Regions from separate parts of the Homo sapiens genome. Here region 2 is linked to region 1. Evidence: fine-mapped expression QTL. A gene starts in region 1. The other region holds a variant in brackets. All regions are shown on one strand. Distances are between the middles of the regions.

Region 1 (5,383 bases):
GTACTCTGGTTTCCTCCCACATGCCAAAGATGTGTATGTTAGGTTCACTGGTGTGTCTACATGGTCCCAGTAGACAATGAGTGTGTGTGAGTGCTTCCTGTGATGAAATAGTGTCTGGTCTAGAGCTGGTTTCCACCTTGTACCATGAGCTGCCAGGATAGGCTCCGGGCACCCACAGCCCTGAGCTGGAATAAGTGTGTCAGAAAATGAATGAATACAAATCATTGTAAAATAAAAATGGGTAAACTTTACAATAATCATACAAATGAATGACAATAAACGATTTGGTATGAAAGGGCTCAGTGAGCTGCCATATTTGTGATTGTTTTTGACCTGGGTGGTGGTAGGAGGTGCTCCTTCCAATTTTCACTTTGCAAACATTTATTCCTTGATTTAGCCCACCACCACTATGACCGAGGTCACTCGCTGATACACCAAAACTTGGATAATTATCTCACCTGTTTTTATTAATCTTTCTCAAATATATGTATAGCACACAATTATTTCAACATTTAATATTAAAAGTACTTTGAGTCTTTCTTTAGAAGTTCGGTGGTGTTTGTGTGACCAAAATATGCCACTGAAACAATTCTTATTTATATCAAGTAGCCTATGGTAGAGTTAGTTTAGTTATACACTGTTTTCCCTAAAGTCACAGTTTCCAAGAGCCTATCTAGACATTAAGTGAGGACTTACTATATAAGTAACAGAAGGTTGTATGTATGTAGAAGTGGAAGAAGCCCTGGTTGTGGCTGTGATCATCCAAAGGAGTAGGTAGAAGAAGAAAAGGGGTCAAGGATGGAACACCAACACTGAAGAGGAAAGGAGATGATTCTATAGATTTCATATAATAACGAATGAATTTCAGTGACTATTATGTAACAACGAATGAGTACTTGAGAATAGGAAAGAGGGAAGGGAAAGGTAAACACATGGAGAATTAGGAGAAAATCTGTCACAAAATAGAGGCTGAACAGCTCCCCCAGAACACACATATAGTAAGGTGTGGAAGTATAATAAAACCCAGGCAGTTTAACTTCAAAGACAGAGTTCTTAGCCACTGTGCGTACTGTCACTCTTAAACAGAGGACAAAGAAGTTACTCAAACAAGGTCCCAGGAGAGACAGAAAGAGGAGCATTTAAGTATAATTACAAAGATTATCTAAGAGGGAAATAAATAAGGATGGTATAAAGTTTCAGACTGCTAGCAGGAAGTTGAGGGACTACTTCTCAGTCTCTTTCTCAATATTATTTTCCTAGACTCATCGCTGAATATAAAAATTCCCTTCTCAGGTTCGTTTTCCACATAGTTTCAAGGGGAAAAAGAACCTCTGGCTATAGTCGACCTTCACATGAGTGAGATTTTATTTCTGTCCAAGGTTAATCTGGGTAGTTAGCTCCCTTATCTGAAACTTACCAAAAAGTTTAAGTTGATGACATCCAAATCTAACCTCAAATCTCTTATTGCCAATGTTTTAGCGTAAGAAAATAAGTTAGATTTCTACGTATTAACATGGGAATACGTTCAACTTATACCATTAAAGTGAAAAAACTGGACGTTTTGATCCGATTTCTGAAAATAATAGGTATTACCTCTAGCGTCGAAAACATCTGGAATAATATACTTCAATCTATTAACAGGGGTCATCTCTGGCGGATGTGGTTACAGGCATCTTTCACTCTATAATTTAAATTTTTATGACCGTGTAGTAAACGGGGAAAATAAGATTTTGTTCCTGTTAGAAGCAGATATCCTGTCTTCTCTGCTTGACTGAGTTCCTTAACAGCGGGTCATATTCACTGGTATATACCTATAGCACATAGCTGGGCTCACTAAGATTCTACAACAAACGAATGAATTAATCAATGATTAGGAGTTTTGAGCATCTCAAATAACCGTTGAAGGAAACATATACACACAAATGCATGCATTTTCCCGTTAACGCGCAATGGAGATGTAAGCTGTAAGGGGCCTTGGAAGGCAGTTATTTCGACGTCCCTGCCTACGTTACGATTTTAAAAGCCCGATTACGATTACAAGTGTCCCGAGGGGATGAAAGTACAGCTTTCTTTAGTAGTCCCTGCTAACACTAATTTACCCTTGCCATGGGAGAACTCAGAAGCTGAGTTCAGAATTGGAGTCGGCCCTGGTCGGAGGTGGCGTGTGTTTCGGGGGAAATGAATTCCGCCAGCTCCGAGCAGCGGTTGGGACCGTTACTCACCATTTCTCAGGACGCCAAGCTGGGGCTGGCGGAGCACCGAATTGAAGAGCATCAGGGTCGGAGGAAAAGCCTCAGCTGAGAGAAAAGTCGTAGAAATGCCTCCAAGTTCAGCAGAAATCGCAGCTTGCGCCTCTCACAACACAAATCGTTATCGCCTCCAACTCCCGCCACTGTAAGCCCCGGCCGCCAAACTCCGCGCCAAACTGACGTCACGCTCTCTGATTGGCTTCCGAGCGACGTCCGGGCGCCTCAGAGTCATTTCCCCCTTCGGATCCCCGCCTCCTTTTCTCCCAGCCGCGGGAACCTGGAGTCCAAGAGCTCCTTGAGCGCCTGCGCAGGGGGTAGCAGAGGCGCGGACAAACCGCGGGGTGACCAGGGCGCATGCGTAACAGGGCTTGACAGCGCGCGGAAGAAAAACCAGCAAGAAGGCGGCGGGGGAAGATGGCGGTCCTGGGGTAGAGTTTGCAAGCTTTCTGACTAGGCTAGTCGAGTAACTATTCGGGTCATGGCGTCAAACTCAACTAAGTCTTTCCTGGCAGATGCCGGCTATGGCGAACAGGAACTGGATGCCAACTCTGCCCTTATGGAATTGGACAAAGGTATTCGAAAGAGAGGGCTGAATGGGTGAAACAGGCGTGGGGGGAAGTGGCGCCACCAGGTGGTGGTTGCTTTGGGAGAAGACGGATAGGCGCATGCGCATGTCTTCGCTGGGCGGGGAGCGCCTGTGCTTTTGCTGGGGCGTGGGCTTTGACCCCTTCGGGAGGTTGCGGGAAATTTGCAGGATTGTGTGACTGGCCTTATACCGGCTAAACAAGTAGCGAGCTCTAGTGAGAGGCCCGTTTTGACCACTTGAGGGAGCAGTCCCCCGATTTTCTAAGCAGTGACAGTGGCTAGTTTCTAAGAGACACTGCAAAGAAATTGTGAAATTGGTTTTCAGTCTGTTCAGTTGAGACCAGGTCTTCATGAAATGTGCTGAATAGTAATCTTGCACCGACTTGACAGCGATTCATTTGATTTCCATAGCTCTGTTACCTGCGGGTTACAAGGCAGGCTAAACCTGGCCAAGACCATAAAAAAGCAAGGGCCCTGCTCATTCTCTGCGGACAAGTTCCAGGAGTTCTGTTGCCGTACAGGGAGCAGCTTGGTGTAGAGGGAGCTTTGGGGTTACACTGAGTTAAGTTTCAATGCCGCTGATTTTATGATTAACTTCATCTAGCCTCGGCTTGTCGTCTGCAAAGTGGGTACAGTACCATTGAGCCGGCAGAATTGTATTAAGTGACTTAATGGTATGCAAAAGAAGCATTTAGTAAATGCTGAAGAGATATACCTCCCTTCTTAGATGTGGATATGGGAGGCAAGGTCGGAAATTTGTTAGTAAAGAACTCGACTAGTAATATGAAACCTTTATTTCATATTGAGGATTTTTATTGTACGGGAAACATTTCGGCAGCTGGTATACAATTAAATCTTGATTAATCGTAGCCAATATATAATGTTGGAGAACTGGACTAGAACTCAGAAGGGTTTGAGCCACTTCCCAGTTTTCTGAGTTGGACATGTCTATTAACTTTTTTGGGACTCTTTTTCTGTTTATTTTTTAAACTGTGAATATTTTTAGTGGGTTAGTCTAAATAAGAGTTTCTCAGGCTCTTAAAAAAGCTTTTACCTTATTTTGATAAACACAAAAATTTCACAGCCCCCTAATGGGATATTCCTTTGGTTGAGTCTCAGTATCTTTAGTGCACCCCCATCAACCAAGAAAATTATGTTGAACTTTTCCTTCTCTTACCAAATCTTTAGGGGTTTTCTCCTCTGAAAAAAAAAAGTATAATACTAAATGTGTTTTTCTCTTTTTTTTTGGAGACAGAGTGTTGCTCTGTTGCCCAGGCTAGAGTGCAGTGGCGCCATCTCGGCTCACTGCAACCTCCGCCTCCCGAGTTCAAACGGTTCTCCTGCCTCAGCCTCCCGAGTAGCTGGAATTACAGGCGCCCGCCACCACGCCCGGCTAATTTTTGTATTTTTAGTATAGACGGGGTTTCACCATGTTGGCCAGGCTGGTCTCCAACTCCTGACCTCAGGTGATCCGTCCGCCTCGGCCTTCCAAAGTGCTGGGATTTACAGGCATGAGCCACCGCGCCCGGCCTTAAATGTGTTTTTCAAACACTTTCCTCCTCATTCTGATACATTTCTTTCTTATTCCTCAGTGAAAGTTACAGGTCAGGATAATATCTAATATCCCTACGAGTTCTAAGGACATTTTCTACCATTCTGGTGCAGCTGAGCTTGTCTCATGCTGACAATAGGATAGTGGTTGTGGAACAGGGATAAAGATGGGGCACTGAAGAGGAGTCTAGAATGGTTTAATTCCTCAAATTTTGCAGTTGTAAGAAAAAAACCACAATTTTTCCTTTTTAAAGAAGAGTTGAAATGAAAATATTTTATATCTATAGGAAAGAAATCAGGTGTCAATCTTAGACACAGAGTAAGTGATCATTTGCACTCCTCCCAGCAATGCCTGGCGTGAGTGTTTTACAGGTGAATCTCAGGCTCAGAAAGATGACTTGTTCTTTTTCATCTCATCTGTAGTAACTTTTAAAGCTGTTAGGAAATTAAGTTATAGAAATAGCCAGTTTCGTGTAGAATATAGTTGAGTATTTTAAATATTGAGTCATTTCATCTTGTACCTGTTAAAGTATTTCTGTTTTGTGAGCTAAAGGTCAGAAGGCTACAAGTTCCAACTCTTTTTTTCGTTCCCAAACTCCAAGGAATACTGTTTCTGAAATATCTCCCCCACCTCAGCATACACACTCAGACACATGACTTATTTGATCGGGCTTTGTACTAGGAACATGGCAGTTAATGAGACAAAACTCCTGCCCCTATAGAGCTTACATTCTAGACAGCAGATGCAGACACTCCGCAAATATAGCAAACGTGACAGTTAGTGATACATATTATAAAGGAAAATGAAGCAATGAAAGGGACTGGAGAAAACTGATCTGGGGCTGGAGTTGATTTCTTATTTTATGAAGTATAGGCAAGAAAGACCTCCTCAATCAAGTGGAAGAACAGCAAGTACAAAGGCCCTGAGGTAGAAGCCTCCTTTGCATGCAGTTATCTGGAGCAAAGTAATAGGCAATGAGTATAGAAAGATAACCAGA
Region 2 (5,383 bases), 130 kb before region 1:
ATAACAGCAGCCCAAACACACTAAGACACCCATTTTCTCTCAGGACCCACACAGGCTGCCAAAGCATCTAGGTGAGACAAGTTCCAGTATTGGCTTCCACAGCGAACCCAGAATGACACTGCTCTTGGACATTCTGGCTCAAATGCTGGGTTGGATCCAAGGGGCCAGATCCCTTCTGCTCTGTGATGGCCTACTTTTCAGCACCCCCCACACCACCACCACTTTAATCATGCCTCCCTCAGGGCCACCCCAGTCCATCAGATGACTGAAGTCCAACCAAAACAAGGTTCAGACCTTTTCCTCATAGACCATACTGTTTAATCTCTGTGTAAATCGATGTATGTAAATGGACACATGGGGAGAAAGGAGTTGCCTAACTGTCCCTATCAAAGGCATCTGAACACCATCTCCTGCCCAGACAACATACTTCATTTTGTTAAAAAACCTGGACTTTATTCTGTAGGCAAAGAACAGCCAATAAAGTTTTTATGTAGTATGCTAGAATGCTAATTATACTGTATTAATTGATGATTAATATTCATAATACACAAAAACTCTCAGAAATTGATTAGAAAAGACAAAACTAGTAGAAATAGATGACTTGAATGAAATGTAATTCATAGAAGAGAAATTCTAAGTGTCCAATATTTATTTATTTATTTGAGACTAGGTCTCCCTCTGTTGCCCAGACTGGAGTGCAGTGGCACGATCATGGCTCACTGCAGCCTCACTTCCCTGGGCTTCAGTGATCCTCCCACCTCAGCCTCCCAAGTAGTTGGGACCACAGGCGTGGGCCACCATGCCCAGCTAATTTTTGTACTTTTGGTAGAGATGGGGTTTCGTCATGTTGCCCAGACTGGTCTTGAACTCCTGAGCTCAAGCGATCCACCCTCCCTGGCCTCCCAAAGTGTGAGGATTACAGGCATAAGCTACCATGCCTGGCCAATAAGTAGATTTAAAAGATGCTCAATATGACTATCAATCAGGGAAATGAAAATTAAGGTAATAACGTAATATCACTTTATACCCTTCAGATTGGTAAAAATTAAGAGGGAAAACATCTACTATTGGTAAGAATGAGAAGGAAATAGGTACTCATATATTGCTGGGTGCAGTATGAGTTGCTACAAACCTTTTGGCAATCAGGCAAAGACTATACAATTTTAATACATTTGCCCTTCAACCTAGCAATCCCACTGCTGGGAATCTACTCTATAGAAATAAAAGCACCAATACAAAAAAAATGCATGTACAGAGGTGCTTATTGCTGCATTGTTTGTAGTTGGCGAAACACTGAAAACCAAGTGAAGCCCATCATTAGAGGAATGAATGAATAAATTACAGTGTGCTTATACATGGGGAATTGTGTAGCCATTTAAATATATGTTAGATCTATATTAATGGACTTGGAGAGATTTCGATGAAATGTGATTAAGTGGGGGAAAGCTGTATGCAAAGGTATAGATGTACTCTGAACCAATTTTCGGAAAATGATGACATCTACCAATAGCAAAACAAAAACCCTAAAACCGTTTGTGTGTGTGTTTAGGTACAGCCTGCTAGCTGCCTACCTAAATCTATTATTTCTTTCTTCCTTACTAAGAGAACCTCCATCATTAGGGGTAGCAATGTGCTCAAACGTGTCTCTTCTTGCAGATAGGAATGGCCAATGAAATTTAAGTGGAAGTTTTGGATGGAGTATTTGGATGAAGTTTAGGTGAAGCTCTTTCTGGCCCCTGGTCTTCCCCATTTCTTACCTGAAAAGGATGTATGGCTGGTGCTTTTATAGTCATTGTATGACTTTGAAGATATAGCTTGTGGAGACTGCACAGTCCTAAGGTGGCACAGGATATCACATCGCAAGGGAGCTTAGCATGCTAAGATGCTAGCTCAGGCCCCTTTTCCTCTTCTTATAAAGCCACCAGTTCCCCTTCCATGATAACACTTTAATCCACTAACCCATTCATCCATTCATCCATGAATAATGGCTCTGCCCTCACGATCCATTCATCCCTTAAGGCCCAAACCTCTCAGTACTGCCACATTGGGGATGAAGTTTCCAACACATGAAATCTGGGGGACACATTCAAACCACAGCAATTAGATTATGACACTTGTTTACGATTATACATACCCTCTTTCTAGGCCTTCTTTGTCCCTAATTAAAATTGTTCCTCCTTCAGCGCCACTCTCTGATATCTGAATCCCAATGAAGATCAAAGTTCAGACCGTTTTCTCATATGACTGATCAACATAAAAAGTGCATGAAAGGATAATCACCAAAAAGTGGAAGAATGAGGGTATCTCAGGGCGGTGGGATTTCAGGTGATCATTTCTTTCTCCCTCTTATTTTTATGATTCTTTTCATTTTTATATTGACCTTATAGTATTTACATAATCAGAAAAAAAAAACAAGAAAGCTGTTTTCAGTGTGAAACAGCAACAACCTAAGGATTGGAGTGAGGCAAGATTGGAGGCAGGGTCAACTACAAGGGCATTTTAGTAATCCAGGTAAGAACTGATGATGGGCTGAATGCAGGTAATGACAATGGAGATAGAGAGATGTAGAAACATTTAAAAATAATAAGGTGGTAGAATCAACAGGACACAGTGATTGATTGGGAGAGAGGAAGAAGGCAAGCTTCCTTGCTTAAGTAAGTGGGTGGAGATGTATGCTATTCTCTGACATAGGGAACACAGGAGGAAAAGCAAAGACTGAGTGGAAGACATGAAGCATCTTCAAAATATTGAAGCCCACTCCCCACTCTGAATACTTTAGGCAGTTATTTCCAGTGATTCCTAGCCACAGTCAGGGCTGAAAAATGCTGGTGAAAACCCCGACATGGGGCTCTCAGGGGAACCCACACTTCAAGTGTGGACTGAGGACCAGGAACTTAAAGGCTAAGAAAACATGGCCAGGGAAAGAAAGGGAAACCAAAGAAAAGCATGTCTTGGAAATGGATAGAGGAGGAAGTTTCTGCTGGTGCTCAATAAATATTGACTAGATGACAGAAAGAAGGAGAGTACAATGGTGTCAAATATTCCTGAGGAGTCAAGAAAGAGAAGGGTTATAACATGTCCAATGGAGTTAGCCTCGAAGAGGTCACCTATGATCCTTCTGGGATCTGTTTCTGTTGAGTGGTGAGAAGTGAGGGCAAAAATCAATGGTTTGACAAC[T/C]GAATGGAAGAGGACAAGCTATCCTATTGAAAAGTGTGATACTAACTTAGAAATTACATTTACAAAACATAATTTGTGATATTGAGAAATACTTAGAATATAACACTAAGTGAAATGCAGGATATAAAACATTACCTATACTATATGATTCCAATTCTGGTATAAATTAGAGGCATAAGGAGCAGGATTAAGATCTCACCCTCTGAAGCCAGACTCCCTGGGATCAAATCCTGACTAGGCCACTGACAGGATGTGCAGCCATGGTAAAGTCCCTCACTGGGTGGTGGTTAGCCTGGCACACAGAAAGTGCTCAGTAAAATGTTAGCTATTAAATGCTGAATGTAGATATATACACATAGAAACAAAATATCCTCAGGTGAGGCTGGGCGCTGTGGCTTATGCCTGTAATCCCAGCACTTTGGGAGGCTGAGGTGGGTGGATCACGAGGTCAGGAGATCGAGACCATCCTGGCTAATACGGTGAAACCCTGTCTCTACTAAAAATACAAAAAAATTAGCTGGGTGTGGTGGCACGCACCTGTAATCCCAGTTACTCGTGAGACTGAGGCAGGAGAATGGCATGAACCCAGGAGGCGGAGCTTGCAGTGAGCCGAGATCATGCCACTGCACTCCAGCCTGGGGGACAGAGCAAGACTCCATCTGAAAAAAAAAAAAAAAAATATATATATATATATATATGTCTCCTCAGGTGGAGAGATTCCAAAATGAGTGGCAGGGTTACAAAGTTGGTTTTTTTTTTTTCTGTACAGTTTTCTTTGTTTCTAAATATTTCTTTGTTTTCTAAATATTCTGTAATGAACGTATACTACTTTTATAAGTAGAGAAAAATGTGAAACAGTATTTAACAAAAAATAAGCTTTTCTGTTAAAGGAAAGAGAAAGAAAAGGCATTTTTAGTCTGTTTTGTGCTACTATAACAGGATACCACAGACTGGGTAATTTATAAAGAAAGGAAATTTGTTTCTCACCGTGCTAGAGGCTGGGAAGTCCAAAATCAAGATGCTGGCTCCTTTTGGGGGCCTTCTTGCTGCATCCTCACGTGGAAAGCAGAAGCGCAAGAGAGAACCAATTTCCTCTTCGAATCCCTTTATTAGGATACCTAATCCCATTCAAGAGGAGGAGCCCTCATAGCATAATAATCTCTTAAAGGCCATGCCTCTTAATTCTATCACATTGACAACACCTGATTTTTGGAAGGGACCCATTTAAGCCATAGAATTGGGCAATAGCTACAGGGTATAGGATTAATGTTTCATGTGCTCATGATGAGACTTCCTATTCACAGTTTTTGGGAAAGATCCTGAAAGGAGTCGAGGGTGACAACTGATGTAATGATTTTTTTTTTTTTTTTTTTTTTTTTTTTGAGACAGTGTCTTGCTCTGTCGCCCAGGTTGGAGTGCAGTGGCGCGATCTCGTCTTACTGCAAGCTCCACCTCCCGGGTTCACGCCATTCTCCTGCCTCAGCCTCCTGAGTAGCTGGGACTACAGGCGCCCGCCACCACGCCCGACTAATTTTTTGTATTTTTAGTAGAGACGAGGTTTCACCGTGTTAGCCAGGATGGTCTCCATCTCCTGAACTTGTGATCCGCCCGTGTCGCCCTTCCAAAGTGCTGGGATTACAGGCGTGAGCCACTGCACCCGGCAGTAATGATGTTTTTGTGAGGAAAAAGGAAAGCATGAATGTGGTGTGGGGAATTAGTCTTTAATAGGACATCTCTTCCTGTGACTGGGGAAGAAAGAATTTGTGAGTAGGTATAAATACAATAATTTGTAGGTGCAGAAACAGGAGGTTGAGGAAGTTCATGACTGATAGCCTTGATGTTAATCACTGAAGCCAGCAAGGCTGTCCACTGAGAGGCGGGAGTCTGAATATCCACAGAGGGATGAAGGAGGAAACTGACACACAGCTGCATTGCCAAACAGCGCTGACAGCCTGGTGCTGCCTGGAGACGTGACTCTGCTACGGCCCTGACCTAGGTCACCCCCAGTGCAGCAGATGCAGCCATGGTTCTGTCATACCGTTCTCGCGTGCTTGTGGCTTGCTCTAGATCCTTAATTGGGTTGCTTCCCATGGGAATTCCACTCCTTCTCCCTCTCACATACAGAAATCCTACTCAGTCTGCAAGGCTAGCTCAGGTTTGTTTATTCAACTATTCAGATATTAATTCATCCAGTTTCCAGCTGGTC

The links. PIP is the estimated chance that this variant, and not a neighbour inherited with it, causes the effect.
Region 2: its variant is the best candidate, but not a certain one, in a credible set for the expression of INTS7 in whole blood (TOPMed, PIP 0.61).

What each region holds. Positions count from the first base shown.
Region 1 is chr1:212,032,782-212,038,164 of GRCh38, reverse strand. INTS7 (integrator complex subunit 7) reads left to right here and starts at 2,608. Exons shown (of 20, transcript NM_015434.4): 1 at 2,608-2,821. The coding sequence starts at 2,728. DTL (denticleless E3 ubiquitin protein ligase adapter) reads right to left here and starts at 2,417. Exons shown (of 15, transcript NM_016448.4): 1 at 2,223-2,417. The coding sequence starts at 2,274. RefSeq lists enhancers at 1,598-2,132, 2,148-2,387, 2,133-2,669, 2,548-2,757.
Region 2 is chr1:212,167,047-212,172,429 of GRCh38, reverse strand. No RefSeq gene overlaps it. Among named protein-coding and RNA genes, the nearest start is that of MIR3122, 92 kb to the right of the region's middle. The variant T/C (reference allele first, on the strand shown) is at 3,178.